Homo sapiens: one gene and its partner. The protein of the gene in region 2 interacts with the protein of the main gene of each other region in a biochemical or structural test. Each region holds a gene or a part of one and is shown on either strand. Other genes may lie near its edges. The genes, in order: NFE2L1 and MAFF.

Region 1 (7,300 bases), on a different chromosome or scaffold from region 2:
TAGCTTCATCTAACAGACCCCCCAAAGGGTCAGGCAGCTCTGGGCCTGCTGTGTCATTGGCTGTGCCATTGAGCTGGGGTGGAAAGAAGAGCCCTGTCAGGTTGGTGGAGCCGAAGGTGGAGTTGAGGCTGGTAGAATTGCTGGGGGCCAACGGGAGCAGCGTGGAGCTACTGGCCACAGGCAGGCTTTCCACCTCGGGGCTGAAGAGTAAGAAGTCCTGGCTGCAGCCCCCCAGGGACGCCTGATGCAGGCTGACATTCTGATTGATGGGAGTGTTGGGGGCAAGGCTGTAGTTGGTGCTCAGTGGGTCTCCAGGAGGGGCACTGTACAGGATTTCACTTGCTGATGTGTTCACTTCCATGGCCTGGGAGGGGAGAAGAGCACCACTGTTCACTAGGAACTGACTCCCTCCCCTGGGGCTCACACACTGCAGGCACCCAACAGAGGCACAGCTGCATGGGTGTAAAGGCAAAATACTATAAACCAAAGCCCACAGTGTCAGCTCCTGACCCAGCTTCGTCCACCAGGCCTGGCAGAGATGGGTTCTTCCATGTAGGCTCCACCCTAATATAGGACTGATCAGCTTTTCCTCATGTTTGGCCAGACTCCCCCATCTTGGAGGGAGAGGAAGAAAACACTACCTTGTTACTGCAAAATCAGCACAGTGAAAAGAACACCCAGACTTAAGTCAGAAAACCTAGCTGCACCACTTGCTGTGTGACGATGGGCACATCATTTAACCTCTGAGCTTCAATTTCCTCACCTTTGAGATAAAGGCTGACTAGATGACTGTGAGGGCCAAGTGAGCGAACGATGGCTGTGAAGCACCATGTGAATGTCAGCTATTATTAACGCACAACCTTGGAAGCATTCAGCCAAGTGCCTATCTGCCTGAAGGAAAGGAAGAAGGCACACCCAGGAGGCAGGCCCTGATTTGGAAGGCTGAGTCCTGAGTTTTATTTAACCCAAACCCTACCTGTCTCCAGCTCCCATTGCCCCAAGGACACACCTGGACAGGTTTCTTCTCATTGTCCCCACTTCTCTATGATTCAGGGAAAGTATTACACTTTCTCTCCTTGGAGATGGAAAAGCAACTGAGTGCTAAGACAATCTGTGCAAAATCCAATAGGTTTGTGCCCGGTTCCGACAATCCTACCTGCATTTCCATGATGGACATGAGATCTTGCCACTGCTGTTCCAAATCAAATGGTGACTCTGTCCCGGTCAGAAGAGGAGACAAGAGGTTGTTTTGAAGAGCAGGGGGCTCACTCTCACTAGGCACTGCTTCTGTTATGCTGGAAATGTCTGCTGGAAACTAGGGCAAAACACAGAGGCTTTAACAAGGGGGAAGGAAAAACCTTGTGCTTTCCTCCCAGAGATTACCACCTGGACCTGTTTCTGTTCTTCCTTCCTCTGCATTTACCCCCAGCAGCCAGAATAAGGCCAGAACCAACAGCTGGCCCCTCAGCCATGGAGGGACACACCAGGTACAGGCTGCCCTGCTCACTTGGTGGACTCTCACTGGAGTCCTGCTCACCTCAGCATTCTCCCCAAAGGGGCAGGTGGCTTCCAGCAGCCTAAGGCACTCTTCCAGGGACAGGGCCGTCTGGTCCTCCCCACTAGGCACCTGTGGCAACAGGAACTGTAAGTCTGATTGACCTGGGCCTTGGCTGCCTGGGGCTGAAGCTTCTTTCCCAGAATGGCTGAAGCCCTGCAGTCTCCCTCCCATTCCCAGGCTAATGGCTGGCCCCGAGTCCCAAACTCCCAGAAACAACAGAAGAGAGTGAAAGAGTCCTGAAGCAAGCAGGAAGATGCTACATGCTCTGCCTCCCTTGCACTGTCTGTTGCCACGGCCTGGCCATTCTGCATCTGCTGCTTTCCACTCCCCCCTTCCAAGGCTCAGCCACTGTGACTTACAGACCCCAACCCAAAACAGAAATTCAGGTCCACCCCACACACCACCTGTCTTCTCTAAAGGAAGTTTCTGGAAGAACTCCAGCCTGGTTTGTGTCAGGGTAGTAGGGACAAGAAGAGAGCCCAGTGAGCAGGGGCGATGGTACCTGTGCAGGGAAGCTCTCCCCAGTCTCTCCATCCACTAGCAGGTTCCGTGCCAGAGCTTCCGCGCCCTCGCCTGCCCAGGTGTCCTGCTCGCCTCCATCTCGCAGCTCCTTCTCCACATCCTGCTCCTTCTGGCGGTGACTATAGTCAAAAACCTCACGCCCAGCCCCCAGATCAATATCCTGTCGCCAAAGGATGTCAATCAGATCTATGTCCTGAAAGACAGATCACATGACTTTAGCTCTAAGATCCCAAGGTCCCTTCCTTGTCCTGCCCCTCAGAGTTCCCTCCTAGTGTCACCCCAGTTAGTCCTGGGTGGGGCCCCTCCCAGCTCTTCACCTGCCAGCCTTTACCCCCTGGTCCCTGCACCAGCAAGTGTTCATTCATCTACTTCCAGACACTATCCCCTTCCCACAAAAAAAAAGAGCCACTAGCAAAACCATTAGTGTGACTATCACCATAAGGGTGCAAAGGATTAGGATCTGGACCAAGACACACCCAGACAAAAGGCAGGGCCGCCTCCCCCCTACATAAGAAAGAAGGGGAACATCAGGAGACACCTCTAGCTTTGGGGATTGGACCCCTTAAAACTTGGTTTGGAGGAAGCTGGCCATGGCAAGCAAGAGCGAATTGTCATGCAGAATTACTTAGCAGTGGCCAGGCTTGCATCAGCCTGTGGTACCATTTCATTTGCATAAAGGGGTGGGGTGGGCTAGAGAGGAAAATCCCTGCATTTCCAACCACCTGATGCAACCAATGACAACGCCATGCTGTCTCCAGCCCTTCCTATAGCCATTCCCCATTCCCCAGCTGGCAGCAAGAGTAAGGCTGAACACCCACAACTCCTCAAGCCCAGGCTCACCTCAAGACTCATCCCCGCCAGAATTCCCTCTCAGCTGATCCTAGCTGCTGCCTCCATTCCAGGGAGGCTCAGGCAGTCAGATGATCCCCAGGGGTGCACCCCACCCCCTGCTCGGGCCAGCCTCACTGTGTCCCCTACACCAGTGCTCTCATTCCCTCACCATACCCCAGGACTCACCAAATCCCCATCAGTCAACCCCCTCAAGGACATAAACCCCATCACTGCTCAGCTACAACTGCCACCTTGGGCACCAAAAATGCTTCCCTCCCGCTCTACCCTGGTGGCTCGTGAACAGTTGCTGCACCAACTGCCACCCCCACTAACAGCATATAACCCCAATAAATAGAGCTATTTGGGCTTCCTATACATGGCACCCCCCTGTAGTCGAGCCCTCCCTACAAGCCTGAAGAAACCCTAAAGTGTTGCCTTCCATCCAGGGGTTAAAATGCAGACATACACTTTCCAGAAAGCAATTTCCTTAGATCAGACCCTCCTCCCTACCTCTAAGTCGGTATTCTTCTCCCATTAACCCCCCCTGACCCTAAGACCTCCCAGACGTACTACTTTAGTCTCCCCACATACACCAACCTGAACAGAAGCCCTGGACCCAGGAGCAGAGGCGGGCTGGGCCACCCGGTGACCAGCCAGCAAAGAGTTAAGGGGCCGGCTGCCTTTGGCATGGCCCCCACCACTGTGAGAGCTGCGGTCCAGGCGGGTCATGGTCTGCGAGATGAGCCCCAGGGCAGCCGGTGCCGGGAAGCCGGACAGGGGGCTGCAAGGAGCTCTTGGCTTTCAGGGAGCACACCAGGCTGGAAGGGTGGCCCCTTGCTAGCTCCGAGGGGCCTGAGGAGGGTGCCCCGCCCGTGCTGCTGCCTGGGCGGCCCAGCCAGCCCCCTTCCTCCATCCTTGAGCAGCCCCCTCCCACCTCACAACCCCAGTTCCACTCAGGCGCCCAGCTGCCCCCACCCTGAGCTCACCGCAGAGGCTGCAGTGAGATGGGACTCCCACCCCATGCTCCGTGCTCAAGCTGCAGAGGAAAGCAAGCTCCCTCCTGGGCCTATCCTCCCGCTCCTCCCCCCCACGCCCCCCAAACTTGTTACCTAGGCTGCAGCAGGGAGCCAATCCCCACCCCCTCCCACCCCGCAGGTCACTGCTGAGGCTGCAGAGAGCCAATCCCCTCCCCCAGGTCAGCAGCTGGGCTGCGCAAAGAGCCAATCCCCTCCCACTGTCGTTACCTAGGCTGCGCCGAGAGCCAATCTCCTCCCCCAAGTCTCCGCTGGAGATGCGGAAGGAGCCAATCCCCTCCCACCGCCTGTTACCTAGCTGCAGACGGGAGCCAATCTCTGCATCAGGGCAGCTGGAGAAGCTGCCGCAAGGAACCAGCCCATCCCTGGGCCGCCTCCGTCTCCTTGAGGAGATGCGCCCAGGGGCGGGCAGCCCCACCCAGCCCAGTCAGTCAGCTGGGGTGGCGCAGTGAGAGCCCTGGGGGAAGGGGTGCCACTCTCCTCCCTCCTGTCGCATCTTGCTCATCCAGCCCACTCAGGACTGGGCAGACACTTCTCCCGCAGATTCTCTGGGAATCTAAATTATTTGCTGGAAGTGGAAAGAGTTATCCCATTCCTCAGGAAGGCAGTGGCCAGTTCTCAAGGCCAGGGATCACGAGCCAGGCTGGGCAGGAACCCAGGGCACCCAGGCCCACCATAAGCCGTAAGTTTTGTCACCCCAAAATAGGCCAGACTAGAGAAAAGGGGAAGGCCATTTTGCCCACGTGCAGCAATGTCACAGTGCTGGCCAAGCCTAGCCCCAAGCAAGAGGAGGGGAGACACAACCCTGAAGCCCCATACTTAGGGAGACAGGTGCTCTGCATTCTCCTGGCCACAAATGTCCCCCCTCCCCTTTCACCCCGGCTTTATTCAAGAGCATTCTCTGCCTGATTCCTGGCCCATATCTCATCCAAGCAGGAAAGAAGCCCCTCACAGACTCAGTATCACAATTCAGACTCCCTGGATTGGTTTCTCGAGGGGAAATTTAGCTCCCTCCCCACTGCTGCTCCCCTGGAGCCTAAGGTCAGGTCAGAGAGACAGTATGTTCTCTCTGGTCACAGTCAGCTCCTAGCCTGGAAAGAGCTGTAAACAGGCCACCCCCCTGCTCTGGGCAGAATGCCAATCTCAAGGGGAATCCTATCCCTGACAACAGCCTAGGCTATGGCTGTCCATAGAGCAGGCCTGGCAGCGGGGGAGTACTGCCACCCCAGGGATAATACCGGTTCCAGCAGTGCCTGTCACATGCTCTGGACCTGGGTATTTTTATCCCTGAGTTGCTGAGGAAATGTTGTTCTAGACACATAATAATCCTCCCTTCCCCCATACCCAGCCTGGGCCCCTAATGCTGACCCACCCCACCTCCCAAAGGGAGTTATAAAGGCCTGAGATGAGGAAAAGCACAACCTTCACGAGGGCCAAGAAACAGAGGAAAGCAGGGTCAAAGTCCCATCCCATTCGGCCCCAACCCACCCAATAATATCCAAAATATCCCATCCCATCCCAGCAGGAACAGATATGCAGCTACCCTGCAGGGTTTCCAGGAGCAAACCCAGTTACACCCACCCCTGGGGGAGCTACCCTGGGGGAGGAGCATAGAGCAGAGACTGGGAAGCACACTTCAGAACACTGTGCCAAGATTAGAGCCCACTTGAAGGAAAGGGGAAGCAGAAGAGAGGTGAAGTTCCAAGTGGCCCTGTAAGAAGCTAAATTAACAGGCCCTGAAAGGTAAGAAATGTTCCTGGCTCCTGCGCTCAGATAATCCTAGTCTCTCTCAAAGCAGGTCCAGTATGAGCCATTTGAGCACAGAGCCGAGTGTCTCAATCCCTGCACTACTGACACTTGGGGTCAGACAAATCTGTTGTTTGAAGGTGTTCTGTGCCATTCAAGATGTTAACCAGCATCCTTGGCCCCTACCCACTAGGTGCCAGTAGCAACCCCGCCCCAAGATGTGACAACCAAAACTGTTTCACGATATTGCCACCTGCACCCTCGGGGACAAAATCACCCCCAGTTGAGGACCACTGGCCTAGAACAAGCCATACTCTTTGACAGTCACTAACAGTCAGAGAACTAAGCTCAGGAAAAGACTACAGAGCAGGGAAGGAGGGAAAACGTGGTCTGACCTGGCAGGCAGAGAAGCCCATTTCTGTAACATCTGTAAAACTTTTTACATTCCTTCACATGCCACCTCCAAAAACCCAATCGGGCTTTCTCCTTCCCTAATGGCCAGGGGAGTGCAGTGGGCCTCTTTCCCGGCTACTTAAGGCTGGATGGCAAGCGAGAGCCATACAAACCCAGAGCTCAAAGCAATCTTATGTTGGTGAGGCAGGGGCAGCAGCAGCCATTCACATCTTGAAAGGCAAAGAACTGCATCGCTTTCTGCCCAGAACAGTATGTCAGCCATGTGACAAGAGCTAAGGATCTCTTCTGACAGCTCAAAGCAAGTTGACTTGGGCAGCAGAATGCAGTTTCTCTTTCTAGCTCCCAGACTTCTCTTCCCTACTCCCTGCAGTGGGCCTTTTGCAAAGATTGGAAGCCTTGGCCCTCTCCTGGCCAAGAATAACTATCCAAATCTACCCTTTGGCTCAGGCCCAGGAGGTCTGAATTATCAGGACAATACAACAACAGGCCTCGCCACAAAGGAGAACTTCAGGGTATGTCTGTGTTCTGATGTGGGGGGAGGTACAAAACAAGAGTCCAAAAAGTATTTGTGTCTTAGCAACAGATGTACACTGCATCAAAGCCCATCACAACATGACTCCTCCCCCACCCCAGGCCTCCAGCAGTCACGCTGAAATCCAAGCAGTAAACACCCTGGCATGTGTAGGAACCTCCCACTGCCCTGACAGTACATTTAGAGGTAGGTCAATGGTTCAACACAGGGAAATGCTCCCAGCCCCCAATCCTAAAGTCAGAAAGTTCAGCCCATCCCTACCCAAGAACAGTGCCTGAGGCCCTGCTGAAACCTGTCTGGCTCTTTACAGGGCTCAGTGTTCTGACCACAATCCTTTGGGACCAGCCCACCCCCAAGCCCCAGGCCCCACACACCCACCACAGGTCCACTAACCTCTTTGGTTAAGTCTCCACTGACTGGGGGGGCTACAGCCCCCAAATCCTCCAAATCTTCACCGAATCCCTGCTCCGTTTCGCTTTCTCGCACCCCGTTGTCTGGGCCTGTCACATCTTGGAGGCCACTGGAACTCTCGAGGGCGAGGCCTGAGTTGGGCTGACTGCCAGAGACAGACCCCTCTGGGTCTCGGTGAACCAGCCAGGCATTTACCTCAGTGGTTGGCACCTGGAACCTGTCCAGGGCCCTCACCTGACTGAGGAGCCGCCG
Region 2 (12,626 bases):
AAAAAAAAAAAAAAAAAAAAAAAAAAAAAGATGGCCAAGCAAGGTGGCTCATGCCTGTAATCCCAGCACTTTGGGAGGCCGAGGTGGGCGGATCATGAGGTCAGGAGACTGAGACCATCATGGCTAACACAGTGAAACCCTGTCTGTACTAAAAATACAAAAAATTAGCTGGGCCTGGTGGCACACACCTGTAGTCCCAACTACTCAGGAGGCTGAGGCAGGAGAATCGCTTAGAACCTGGGAGGCAGAGGTTGCAGTGAGCCGAGATTACGCGACTGCACTCCAGCCTGGGTGACAGAGCAAGACTCCATCTCAAAAATAATAATAATAATAATAATAGAATTCAGGCCTGAGGCCACATGGAGCCACACACCTCCTCCCTGTGTGGCCCTGGCAGGGCGACCTCCCTGGGCCCTGTTTCCCTAGCCCTGTGAAGATGAAGCTGGACTTGCCAGTTTCCAAGGCCACCCCAGCTCTGATTCTCCAGGATTTGTGTTGGGCCCGCTAGGGATACGATTTGCAAGTTACAGTTAAGTATCCAGGCCCCCTTACCAGCCGTTTGGGGAGCTGGCACGTGCAGTGATGCTTGGCCACCTGAGCTACACAGAAAGACCCAATGGGAGAAGGGAAGCCTCTCCCCACGCAAGTTAATCAACTGCCCTTTGGGTGTTGCGGCTGATACAGAACCTCAGAGGCACAGTCTGGCCTCATGCACAAGTCATTTTTCCTGAGTCCTGGATTCCTTGCTAAGTGGGAATAATCACAATAATCTTGGTGTGTAAAATATAAAGGCTTAGGCAAGGCCAGGCGTGGTGGCTCACGCCTGTAATCCCAGCACTTTGGGAGGCCAAGGTGGGCAGATCATCTGAGGCCAGGAGTTCAAGAACGGCCTGGCCAACATGGTGAAATCCTGTCTCTACTAAAGAAAAAAAAAAATGCAAAAATTAGCCAGGTGTGGTGGCGCACACCTATAGTCCCAGCTACTTGGGAGGCTGAGGCAGAAGAATTGCATGAACCCGGGAGGTGGAGGTTTCAGTGAGCTGAGAACAAGCCACTGGACTCCAGCCTGGGCAACAGAGCGAGACTCCATCAAAAAAAAAAAAAAAAAAAAAGGAGGCATAGGCAAGAAAGATCACCTCATCTCACCATCATCCCACTATCCACAAGCAACAGAGACATCACTAACCACACACAGCACCAATTCCCAGTGAGGCAGGCCACAGCCCCTGAGTCTTTCTCAGCACAGAACTGTTTTCTCCTGAGCTTGGACACAGCCTAGAATCCTCAACACTGCCTCCAGACCAGGCCTGAGAGATGGAACCATCAGCCATTCCCTATCCTTGATAATAGCGGAAGCTGGCTGTGATTGTAAATACCCTCAGGTGCTAGGAAGGTTTTGAACCTGCTCTTCCCCCACTCCTCCATGCCCTCCTGTCCGAGCCTCAGCCCCCTCAACCGCATCCTGGATGTCAGCTGAGGCACCCACGTTTGCCCAGGAATGTCCTAGCTCAGCAGTCAGGCAATCACAGGGGGAAAGTCACAAGAAGGGGGAACTTTCTGGTAACCTCAGGCTTTCCGCTGCCAACCCCAGGCCAGGGGCTGCCAAGGGGCCTGGGTCCTCTGCCTTTGCCAGGCTGGCTGACCCTGGGCCTGAGAAATAGTAGCTGATCCGATCCCCTGTTCAGCACCTGAGGCAACCAAGCCACTGTTTGGTAGCCGTGGCGGACTGGAACCCAGGGGTCCTCTGTCTTCTATGTCGGCCACCACCACCTCTCCCTGGCTTCTTCCCTTGGAAGCCAGCAGAGCTGACCTCCAGGGTCTGCAGGTTCATGACGTCTTCTGGAGGCATAAGGAGAGAGGTGACTCTTGAGGGACTGACAACTGCCTTGTCCAGTCAGCAGCCACAACCCTCCAACGTCCCCCTCCCTGGCCCCACCAGTCCACTCCAGAGACATCCTGTAGAAGGCCCACCCGCTGGCATGGGCTCCTTTCTGGCTGCTGAGCCATTCTGCTCGCTCTGTGAGGACAGGGAAAAAATGTGTTTTCCTAGCTCTTGGCAGTCAGCACTGCTGGAGCCTCCTCCCTGCTGGAAGGGGAGCAAGGCTGGAAGAACCAAGCACCACAGAGAAGCAACGGCCTGGGGTTCCAGCCCCAGTTCAGGTACCCTCTCACACTCGCTGTGTGGCCTCAGGTACGGCACTCCCTCTCTCTGGGCCTCAGTTTTCCCACTATGCCAAACGTCCTCCGAGCCTAAGGTACCTTCCAACAATGACTGTCTCTGAGTTTAGAGTTTCAGATTCTGGCCCAGAGCTCCAAGACCACCAGCAGAATGGAGGTAGGGAAAGGAAAGCGGTGAAGGCTTCCTGGAGGTGGGGGCATGAGACACAAACTATCAGACTATCAGACTAGCCCTCTTCTCCACCTGCACAGCCACAGACCACTTCCTCCTTCATCTGGACCATGACCACAACCGCCTGCTCACCAGCCTCTTGCCTTGCCCTCCGTCTCCAATCCCCATCATTGATCCTCCCCCAAGAGCTGTCAGAGGAATCACTACTGACACAAACCCACGAGCCTGTCCGTGCTTGGCCCATTTCAAAACCCTGCAATGCCAGCCTCCCCGCAAGCCAACACAGTAGGGTCCTCAGGCCTCAACCGTATTCCTGTCCACTCTCTCCCAGGATCGTATGCTAACAGATGAATGAACAGACAGCAAATTCTACTATCCCTGAATGTTTCCCAAAGGGACAAGCGGGCAGTGCATGCCTGTGTGTGTGAGGGAGGAAGTTGCCTGAGTCCTGAAGGATTTGCTCGCTTTTGGGAGACTGCTTCAAGATTCCCCCAGCCCCTGCCCTGGCTTCCTGTTTCTCTGGGGTTCCCAGGCCTTTTTCTCCATGTGTTGTGGAGCTCTTAGAGGGCAGGGATCCAGGGCTCATTCATTCAATCAGCAAACATCCAAGAAGCACCTACTATGTTCCAGGCTCTGTGCTGGGCCCTGGAGACCCTGAAGTGAATCACAGCTCCTGCCTTCAAGGGCTTCACAGACAACCACCACTCTATCAGACTCAGCACACTAGTCACCTCCCCAGGGAAGCCTTCCTTGATTGCCCTGGCTAAGTCAGAGCGCTGTTATGTACTTTCAAACCACAGTGACTTCTCCCTCACATCACCCATCTAAGCTGTGTTTTGCATTTACTTCTGTGGATCTTTTTTCAAGTTTGTGTCCGCTGCTGAGCTATAAGCTCCCAGAGGGCAGTCTCTGGATCTGGTCTGTTCATCTCATCCCTGGCATCTGGTCCAGGACAAGGGCCCAATGGCAATGCAGGGCCCAGGGGTGATTCAATGGGAAGTTAAACTTCTCAGTGCTAACTTTCCATCTGGGACTGAGTCAACCAGCCACTTCCCCTCATCCCCTGACCCCAGGCCCTACTTTGTAATGTTTCCTGCCCAGCTTTGAGGGTGGGCCTGTCTGGTTCCTGTGCTCCTGGCCCCAACCCTCCTGACTCAAACCCCACCTACTCTTGGGTACCCCCAGCTCCTGGCATGGGGCTGTCAGCCCTGCTTTCTCTTCCACAATTCACCTGGAAAATACGCTGTCTGCACAGACTTCCAGAGCTTCCCCCTTCTACCCACCATCCTGCCATCCTGGCTGTTACCTAGTTCCCAGTGGTAGATGGGAATACTGAGGGTCCGGGCTGCTGTAGCAGAGCTCACCCAGGGTTCAAAGATCCAAAGTCAAAAGATCATTGGTTCCTCACCCTAGCAAGTTCAATTGCTCCCCTCCCACAATTCCATAGACCGTGGGTGGGTGGGTGGAGGGGGAAGGTGGATTAAGACCAAGGAATCTCTAGCCCCCAGCCCATCCTGCAGGCGGCTACGACAAACAGGTGCTTTCTGCAGGGCTATTGGGTGAGTGGGTGGGTGGCGGCTAGGTCAGGCCCCACCCCTCACTCATTAACCCTCCGTGCAGTCAGAGTTCTATCCCCAATGCCTACTGACCCTGCCTGGCCCAGGGTGAGGGCACTCGGGGTCTGTCGGCTGGCTCAGAGCCTCAGCTAGCTTCCGGCGTCCAGCTGTAGGTCAGTCTAGTCTCACCAGTCCCACTTGTGAACTGAAACTACCAGGAGAGCGGAAACCGGCTCCGCCCCATCCTCCACGACCTAGCAGGTACAGCCTCCAGAACCCGGACTAGCTAAAAGCCTGTGGTCCTCTCCCTGCGCCGCACCCTTGCAGTCAAGGTTTTCTGGCCCTTCCTGTTCTCATGGGACTGAGGGGATGGGCAACCCTGGGGACGAACGAGAGTCCCTTGGTTCTTCCCTCCCCAGGAAGCCCCAAAATCTGGGGACAAGAACCTGGGCTCCAACTCACTTTGTTACCAGATCCACCGGGGTGCCAAGCGGGGGTGGCTCACATCCCTCACTCCTAGCTCAGCTGGGTGGGGTCTTTGATACCTTGCCCCACCCTGTGGCTGCGGGCGCGGGCTCTGGGCGGGAGACAAACACTGGGGTCACGTGGCGGAGGCCCTGGGAAACTCCGGGGAGAGCCGGGGACGGACAGCCCCGGGTAGTAGGACTGGGGCGGCCCGGGCCAGAATTCCCAGACCCCGTGCGAAGACGCACGGGTCCGCTTCCTTCGCTCGGGTCCTTGTTCCGCGTTTACTCCGGTGGCCGGCCCAGGGCACGCCCTCTCCGAGGTACACACTGCTGGTGTACAGGCCCCAGGGAGCGCGCGCGCGGACACGCACACACAAGCACAACACACGCACACACGCCCCCGAGGTACACAGCGCACGCACGCACCGGGCAGGATACCCAGGCCGCCCGCCAGGGAACACACGCCCGCCCTCGGACGTAAACAAACCGCGCACGCACCGCCCGCGGGCGCCGGGCCAGGGCCTGTTCCCACCGAGTCACGTAGGAGCACAGCGCCCCCGCCCCCGCCGGGCGGACGCGGAGATCGCCGGCCTGCGCTGCCCCTTCCTCCCGGCGCCGCCGCCTACCCGCCCGCGCCCCGGGAAGGGGCCCCGTCTCCACCCCCACTCCCCCGAGCTGGCCTCGGCCCCGTCCTCGGCGTCCCCGGGACGGCCGCTCCCTTCTCCCCGCCCCGAGCCGTCCGGGCGATGGAGCTCCGGGAGCCCCGACGGATCGGGCCCGGGCGCCCACCCCAGGCGCATCCCGGGACGCAGAAACCCTGCCGCCTTGGGGTCCCGCGCACCGTCCTCCTGGTCCCGCGTTCCTCACCCGCTTCTGGGCCCGCTTGGTCCGGCGCGCTCACACACGCGCGTCTCGCCGCTGTCCCGGCCGCTGTCCCGATCCGCGCTCCGGTCAGTCTCCCCTCCGCTCTGAGCCGCAGGTCGCTCTGAACCGGGCGCCCGGGAGCGCTGCGCTGAGTTTTGTTGTGGGGCGGGCGGCGCAGGGGGCCGAGGCCGCGCGGAGTTGTAAGGCGAGCTTCCCGGAATTACTCACTCACAGGATTCCTTTCATTCATAAAAACCCAGTCATGCGGTGACGTCACCGACCCGGCCGCCCTCCGGCCAGGAGCGGCCGCTTGGTCCCTCGGCCCCGCCCCCGTATGACCCCGCCCCCTGGAAGCCCCGCCCCCGGGGCTGCCGCGATTCTCTGCCTGGTTCCAGGGCTCGCTGGGTGCGTTCACGTGACACCTCGCGAGAGCCCCGTGGGTGTAGGTGTCATTGGCTCATTTTACAGGTAGTGGTCCTGGCCCTCTTCTTTCGACCTAGACCTTCTGCCTTAATGATCTCATCCAGTCCCGTGGCTTTAAATGACATTTATATGGCTATGAGCCCCAGGTTTGTATTTCCGGAGCGAACAGCTTCTCTGAGTTCCAGACTCATAGCCAGCTGCCCACTCTGCGCATCCAGTGGGTGTCAGATGGGCACTGCAGAGGACTCGGCCCAAAAACCCGCTCCTGATCGTCAGCCCTACCTCTGCTCCCTTGCCACCCCATCTCAGCTGCTCAAGCCAAAACCTTGGAGCCTGGCTCCATCCCTCCCTCTCCCTTCCTCCCCACCTCAGGACTCAAGCTAGCGGTGTCTCCAGGTCTCCTGCATAGGACCATTTCTCACCACCTCCAGTCATGGCACCTGGTCTCGGCACCATCAGCTTACCCGGACAATGGCAGCAGCCTCCGAGGCTCCCTACTTTGCCTCCAAAGTCTTTCTTTCTATACCAGCCAATGTTCTTCTCAAAACAAAGCTCAGGTTGTTTACACACCTTCTTTGGCCACTCTCTCCTCATCCACTGCTCTTCGGCCACAGTGCCCTTCTTTCTGTCCCCCAAACATACCAAGCTCATTCCTGCGACAGGCCCTTGGCACTGGCTGTCTGGTCTTCTGTTCACTTGCCTGACTCTTTCTCATCTTTCACGTCAGCCCGGATGTCACTGCCTCAGAGAGACATTTCCTGACCACCCTGGTTAAAGCAGTCTTCACCTCTGAATTTTTTTTTTTTTTTCGAGACAGGGTCTCACTCTGTCACCCAGGCTGGAGTGCAGTGGCACAATCTCGGCTCACTGCAACCTCCTTCTCCTGGACTCCAGCCATTCTCCCACCTTAGCCTCCCAAGTAGCTGGGACCATAAGCACACACCACCATGCTAGGTTCATTTTTTGTATTTTTTTTTTTTTTTTTTTTTTTTTTTTTTTGTAGAGACAGGGTTTTGCCATGTTGCCCAAACTGGTCTCAAACTCCTGGACTCAGGCAATCCACCCACGCTGGCCTCCCAAAGTAATGGGATTACAGGCGCAAGCCACCGCACCCAGCCTTGAAATTTGTTCTTATATTATCTTAATACTTCTGTAGGGTGTTTCATCATTTATGTATGTGAGTGCTGGTTATTGTCTGTCTTCCCCAACCAGAATGTATGTTTTATGAAGGCAGGCCTTGCTTCTTTTTCTTTTTCTTTTTTTTTTTTTGAGACAGAGTCTCACTCTGTTGCCCAGGCTGGAGTGCAGTGGCATAATCTTGGCTCACTGCAACCTCCGCCTCCCAGGTTCAAGGAATTCAGCCCCCCAGTAGCTGGACTACAGGTGAGTCACCATGCCCAGCCAGGCTGGTTTTGAACCCCTGACCTCAGGCCACCCACCTCGGCCTCCCAAAGTGTTGGGATTGCAGACATGAGCCACTGCGCCTGGCCAGGCTTATCTTGTTCACCACTGCCTGCCCAGTGCCTGGAGTAGTGCTTGGCACATAGTAGGCCCACAGTAAATACATGTTGAAGGAATACATGACTGGAGGCTCAGAGAGGTGAAGGTGACTTTCTAAATTCACTCAGCTAGGAAGTACAAGCACTGGAATTGGTATCCAGGTCTGAATGATTCCTGGCCCAGATGTTTGGGGGTACATCGCAACCAGGGGAGGAGGGCCACATAAACATGAGGGGTGTGCGCCGTGGTGGGAAGCCCCACCCAAAAGAGATGGCTTTGGAGGCCACGTGCGGGGTGGATGTTGCTGTTCATCCCCTGCTTTCCTTTGCTCATGATGTTCCCACTGCCTGAAATTCCATCGCTCCCACAGTCCCTCCTGTGAAGCCGACATCATGGCACTTACTCCACTGTGGAGGGCATAGGGCCTCTCCAAATGGGTAGGCCTCTATGTGGCACCCTGATCACCAGTAAGGATCCCCACTTTCCTTTTTTTTTTTTTTTTTTTGAGCCGGAGTCTCGCTGTGTTGCCCCAGGCTGGAGTGCAGTGGCGCGATCTCAGCTCACTGCAAGCTCCACCTCCCGGGTTCACGCCATTCTCCAGCCTCAGCCTCCCGAGTAGCTGGGACTACAGGCGCCCGCCACCGCGCCCTCCTAATTTTTTTTTTTTGTATTTTTAGTAGAGACGGGGTTTCACCGTGGTGTCGATCTCCTGACCTCGTGATCCACCCGCCTCGGCCTCCCAAAGTGCTGGGATTACACGCGTGAGCCACCGCGCCCAGCCCCCCACTTTCCTTGATGTAGCAAATTCGATTTCAGCGCCCTTGTCTTGCTTTCCTGCCTCTGTGCCTTGGTCCACCAGACACTATGGCTTCTTTCCGTTCCCTCCCACAGGCTGTGGGTTTGGTATGCAAATTGGCCCACTAGTTTCCCAAGTGACCAAATGTTGAGGCAGCTTTGTCTAGCACTCAAAAGGATCTCTAAAAACCAATTGCTCAGTCCTCTCCATGTGCATAGCAGAAAGAGCCACCTAGGTTAACCTTTGGGGTAGGAAAGTTCTCAGTTTTAGAAACTGCACAATGGTGAGTTGTCTATTTTCTCTACCCCCCACCCCCTTTAAAACCAAAACCAAAACAAAACAAAACAGGGTCTTGCCCTGTTGCCCAGGCTGGAGTGCAGTGGCATGATCATAGCTCACTGCAGCCTTGAACTTCTGGGCTCAAGCGATCCTCTCACCTCAGCCTCCCGAGTAGTTGGGACTACAAGTGTGCATCACTGTGCCTGGATAATTTTTCTATTTTTTGCAGAGATGGAGGTCTCACCATATTGCATAGGTTGATCTTGAACCCTTGGCCTCAAGCCTTCCTTCTGCCTCAGCCTCCCAATCTACTCCCTTTTTTATGAGCTTCTCAAGAGCTGGGGCCACACCTGGAACACTGTAGGTGCTCAGCTAGTGAGTGAATTCTCAGTGGACCTGAACAACACTCCTGGACACCATGCTGCCTAGATCCTTTACTCCCATCCCCAGCCTGCCAGAACAAGGGGGTCAGTGCCTCATTATCCACCCTGCAGGGACTGCTTCCCATAGACATAGCTCCCTTTCTGGTCAAGATCAAGGGCCATGGTGCAATGTCCTATTTAAAAGTGGGAGCTCAGGCTGGGCATGGTGGCTCGCACCTGTATTCTCAGCACTTTGGGAGACCGAGGCAGGAGGATCACTTGAGCCCGGAGTTTGAGACCAGCCTGGGCAATATGGCGAAATCTTGTCTCTATTAAAAAAAGAAGAGGAAGAAAAAAAAAAAAGAAATGACCATCAGGCAGCCACCATAGTAATCATGGGTTGCAGCAAGAATCACCAATGGATATGAAAGCTTGATGAGAAAGTATTTACATAGTTTCAAGTTATTTACCCACAAGATGATAATTAATTATGGAAGGAAAAATAATAACTCTGCAGTGGAGAAATTTGGCAGACACAACCTTCGCTAAGTGATCAAAGTTAATATCACCAGTAAGGGGCAAATTGCCACGGAGTTTGTAGATGAGGTAATTACTGCATGGATGCCCAACTTCCTGGCTTCAATGCTTGTCCTGTGGTCATAGAAGAGAATGTGTCCTTGATTTTAGGAAATATACACTGGAGTATTTATTTATTTATTTATTTATTTATTTTTTTGAGATGGAGTCTTGCTCTGTCACCCAGGCTGGAGTGCAATGGTGCGACCTTGGCTCACTGCAACCTCTGCCTCCTGGGTTCAAGTGATTCTCCTGCCTCAGCCTCCTGAGTAGCTGGGATTACAGGCACCCACCATCATGCCCGGCTAAATTTTGTATTTTTGTAGAGACGGGGGTTTCACCATGTTGGCCAGGCTAGTCTTGAACTCCTGACCTCAGGTCATCTGTCTGCCTCGGCCTCCTGAAGAGCTGGGATTACAGGTGTGAGCCACCGTGCCTGGCCCACTAGAGTATTTAGAGGTAAAAGGCATCATGTTTGCAATTTACTCTGACATGGTTCTGAAAATAATACATATAGATAGATAGTGTTATGGGTGGAATTTCATAATGTTAAAATGTGTATGTTGAAGTCCTAATGCCTAAAAATCTCAGAATGTGACTGTATTTGGAGATAAAGTTTTAAAAGGCATAAGTAAATTAAAATATATACGGTAGGCCCTAATCCAATCTGACCAGTGTCCTTATAAGAAAAGAAAATTTGGCCAGGCGCAGTGTAATCCCAGCACGTTGGGACGCCAAGGCAGGCAGATCACTTGAGGTCAGGAGTTTGAGACCAGCCTGGCCAACATGCAAAACCCTGTCTCTACTTAATTAAAAAAAAAAAAATTAGTCGGGAGTTGTGGCACATGCCTATAATCCTAGCTACTCAGGAGGCTGAGGCAGGAGAATTGCTTGAACCTGGGAGGCAGAGGTTGCAGTGAGCCGAGATCACGCCATTGCACTCCAGCCTGGGCGACAGAGCGAGACTGTCTCAAAAAAAAAATTGTTTTTTGAAAGTAGGGACTCTCAAGTCAGCCTGTCGGGTTCAGATCCTGGCCCCACGCCTCATCAGCTGACGTCATCTCCACCCTCTATAAACCGGGCTAATAGTGCCTCCTTTGCAGGCTGTGAAACAACATAATGTGTTTGCACTTATAAGCCTCTGGCACAGCGCTTAGTATATAATAAAAGATCAATAATATCAGGTTAGAGAGAGGAGTCCTCTACAGCAGGGGTCCCCAAATCGCAGGCTGAGGACCAGTACTGTTTGTCCGTGGCCTGTTAGGAACCAGCGGGCTGAGTGAGCGTCACCGCCTGAGCTCCGCCTCCTGTAGGATCAGCACTGGCATTGGAGTCTCATTAGGAGCGTGAACCCTATTGTGAACTGCGCTTTTGAGGGATCCAGGTTGTGTGCTCCTTGTGAGAATCTAACTACGGCCAGATATGCCTGATGACCTGAGGTGGAACAGTTTCTTTTTTTTTTTTTTTTTTTGGAGAGAGTCTCGCTCTATCCCCCAGGCTGGAGTGCAGTGTAGCCATCTTGGCTCACTGCAACCTCCGCCTTTTGGGTTCAACTGATTCTCCCACCTCAGCCTCCCCCAAGTAGCTGGGACTACAGGCACGCGCCACCACGCCCATCTAATTTTTGTATTTTTAGTAGAGACGGGGTTTCACCATGTTGGCCAGGCTGGTCTCAAACTCCTGACCTCAGGTGATCTGCCCCGCTCAGCCTCCCAAAGTGCTGGGATTACAGGCGTGAGCCACCGCGCCTGGCCACTGGAACAGTTTCATCCCGAAACCATCCCCCACCCACACTCCCCACTCTCCACCCCCACCCCACCCTCATCTGTGGAAAAGTTGTCTTCTACGAAATGGTCCCTGGTGTCAAAAGCAGAGGAAATGGACAGAGTGATCAGTTCGCCCAGAGGCCAAGGGACCACACCCTGGATGCCAGGTGTGGTGCTCCCGTGTATCAGGTCACACTCAATCCTCTCCATGTCTTAGCACTTAGCTATTATCATGGCCATGTTGCAGATGAGGAAATCGAGACCGTGGCAGGTGAGGAATCTTGCCCAGTATTGCACAGCTAGTCCCTGGCAGAGAAGGACTTAAACTCAGGCTGGTCCGACTCGAGGGCTGCGCTCTCTCCTGCTGCCCCCGCCGGAATGATTTGCTGGGTTTTGTTCTGGAGAGATTCGATATTTCACGTGGGCCACTTCAGAGTCTGACGATAATTAGAGCACACGCCATTTCTCCGCGTGGGCACCCCCGGGTGGGATCCTGGAGGAACCTTGTGCCCTCCTCCCCTTCTTCCTCCTCTTCCCTTCCCTCTACTTTGTCAATCCTAAGGCAAACCGGGCAGGGCCTGGCAGAGGGTGACTCTTGACCAGGGCCACTTTCTGCAAATACAAGGGTCCTGAGTCTGGGCTGGAGATGTGATTGTTCAGCAGAGAGAAAAAAGGTTTGAGCAAACCCAAACAATTGGGCCGGGCGCAGTGGCTCATGCCTGTAATCCCAGCATGTTGGGAGGCCAAGGTGGATCACTTGAGGCCAGGAGTTCGAGACCAGCCTGGCCAACATGGTGAAACTCTCGTCTCTACTAAAAAATACAACAATTAGCCCAGTGTGGTGGCATGCGCCTGTAGCCCCAGCTACTCCGGAGGTTAAGGCAGGAGAATCGCTTGAACCCAGGAGGCGGAGGTTGCAGTGAGCTGAGATCTCACCACTGCACTCCAGCCTGGGCGACAGAGCAAGACTGTCTCAAAAAATAAAAATAAAAATAAATCCAAGCAACCCCAGTACCTACTGTTACTGTTTTTGTTTTGAGACGGAGTCTTGCTCTGTCACCCAGGCTGGAGGGCAGTGGCCCGATCTCGGCTCACTGCAAGCTCCACCTCCCGGGTTCCCGCCATTCTCCTGCCTCAGCCTCCCAAGTAGCTGGGACTACAGGCGTATTATTGCTTATGAATCACATTTATGTGCCTAAGAGCTGTCATCTCACAAAATTCTATGAAGTATCTGTATCATCCCCACTTTATAGATGAGGAAACCGAGGCTAGGAGGGCTGAAGCCATTTGCTAAGGGCCCTTCCCACCCACATGTGAATATGAACCTTTCGTCTCCACTTCACCAACACTGGGAGTTTTCATTGTCTAAGCTCTGCTAATTTCCTAGGCAAATGACGTTATTGTATTTAAATTTGCATTTCTCTGAATAGGAATGAGCTTGAACACATTCCCATTTGCTTGTTAACCAGTTGGGTTTTTTCTTCTTTTGTTCGTGTGCTTTGCCTATTTTAGAGAATACATTTTTATGTTTGCAAACTGATATTTTAGGAACCTGAAACAGTACTGCACATGCTCCATTTTTCCCCAGCCCTCCATCATTTTCCCTCTAAAACCTCCCCCCCCTCCCCACCCCCAGCAGCTTCAATATACCTGGAGATGTGCCAGCCCTGGTCTGAGTCCTTTTGTG

Evidence for each region.
Region 1: the proteins of MAFF (region 2) and NFE2L1 form a complex in vitro, tested with the Homo sapiens proteins (one study listed by BioGRID).

What each region holds. Positions count from the first base shown.
Region 1 is NC_000017.11:48,051,359-48,058,658, reverse strand, and holds part of NFE2L1 (endoplasmic reticulum membrane sensor NFE2L1), read right to left. Parts: coding exon 7,031-7,300; intron 2,274-7,030; coding exon 2,061-2,273; intron 1,628-2,060; coding exon 1,538-1,627; intron 1,316-1,537; coding exon 1,157-1,315; intron 365-1,156; coding exon 1-364.
Region 2 is NC_000022.11:38,194,827-38,207,452, reverse strand, and holds the start of MAFF (transcription factor MafF), read right to left. Parts: upstream 5,460-12,626; 5' UTR 5,241-5,459; exon of another isoform or gene 5,215-5,240; intron 4,434-5,214; exon of another isoform or gene 4,369-4,433; intron 1-4,368. UniProt on the Homo sapiens protein: Since they lack a putative transactivation domain, the small Mafs behave as transcriptional repressors when they dimerize among themselves.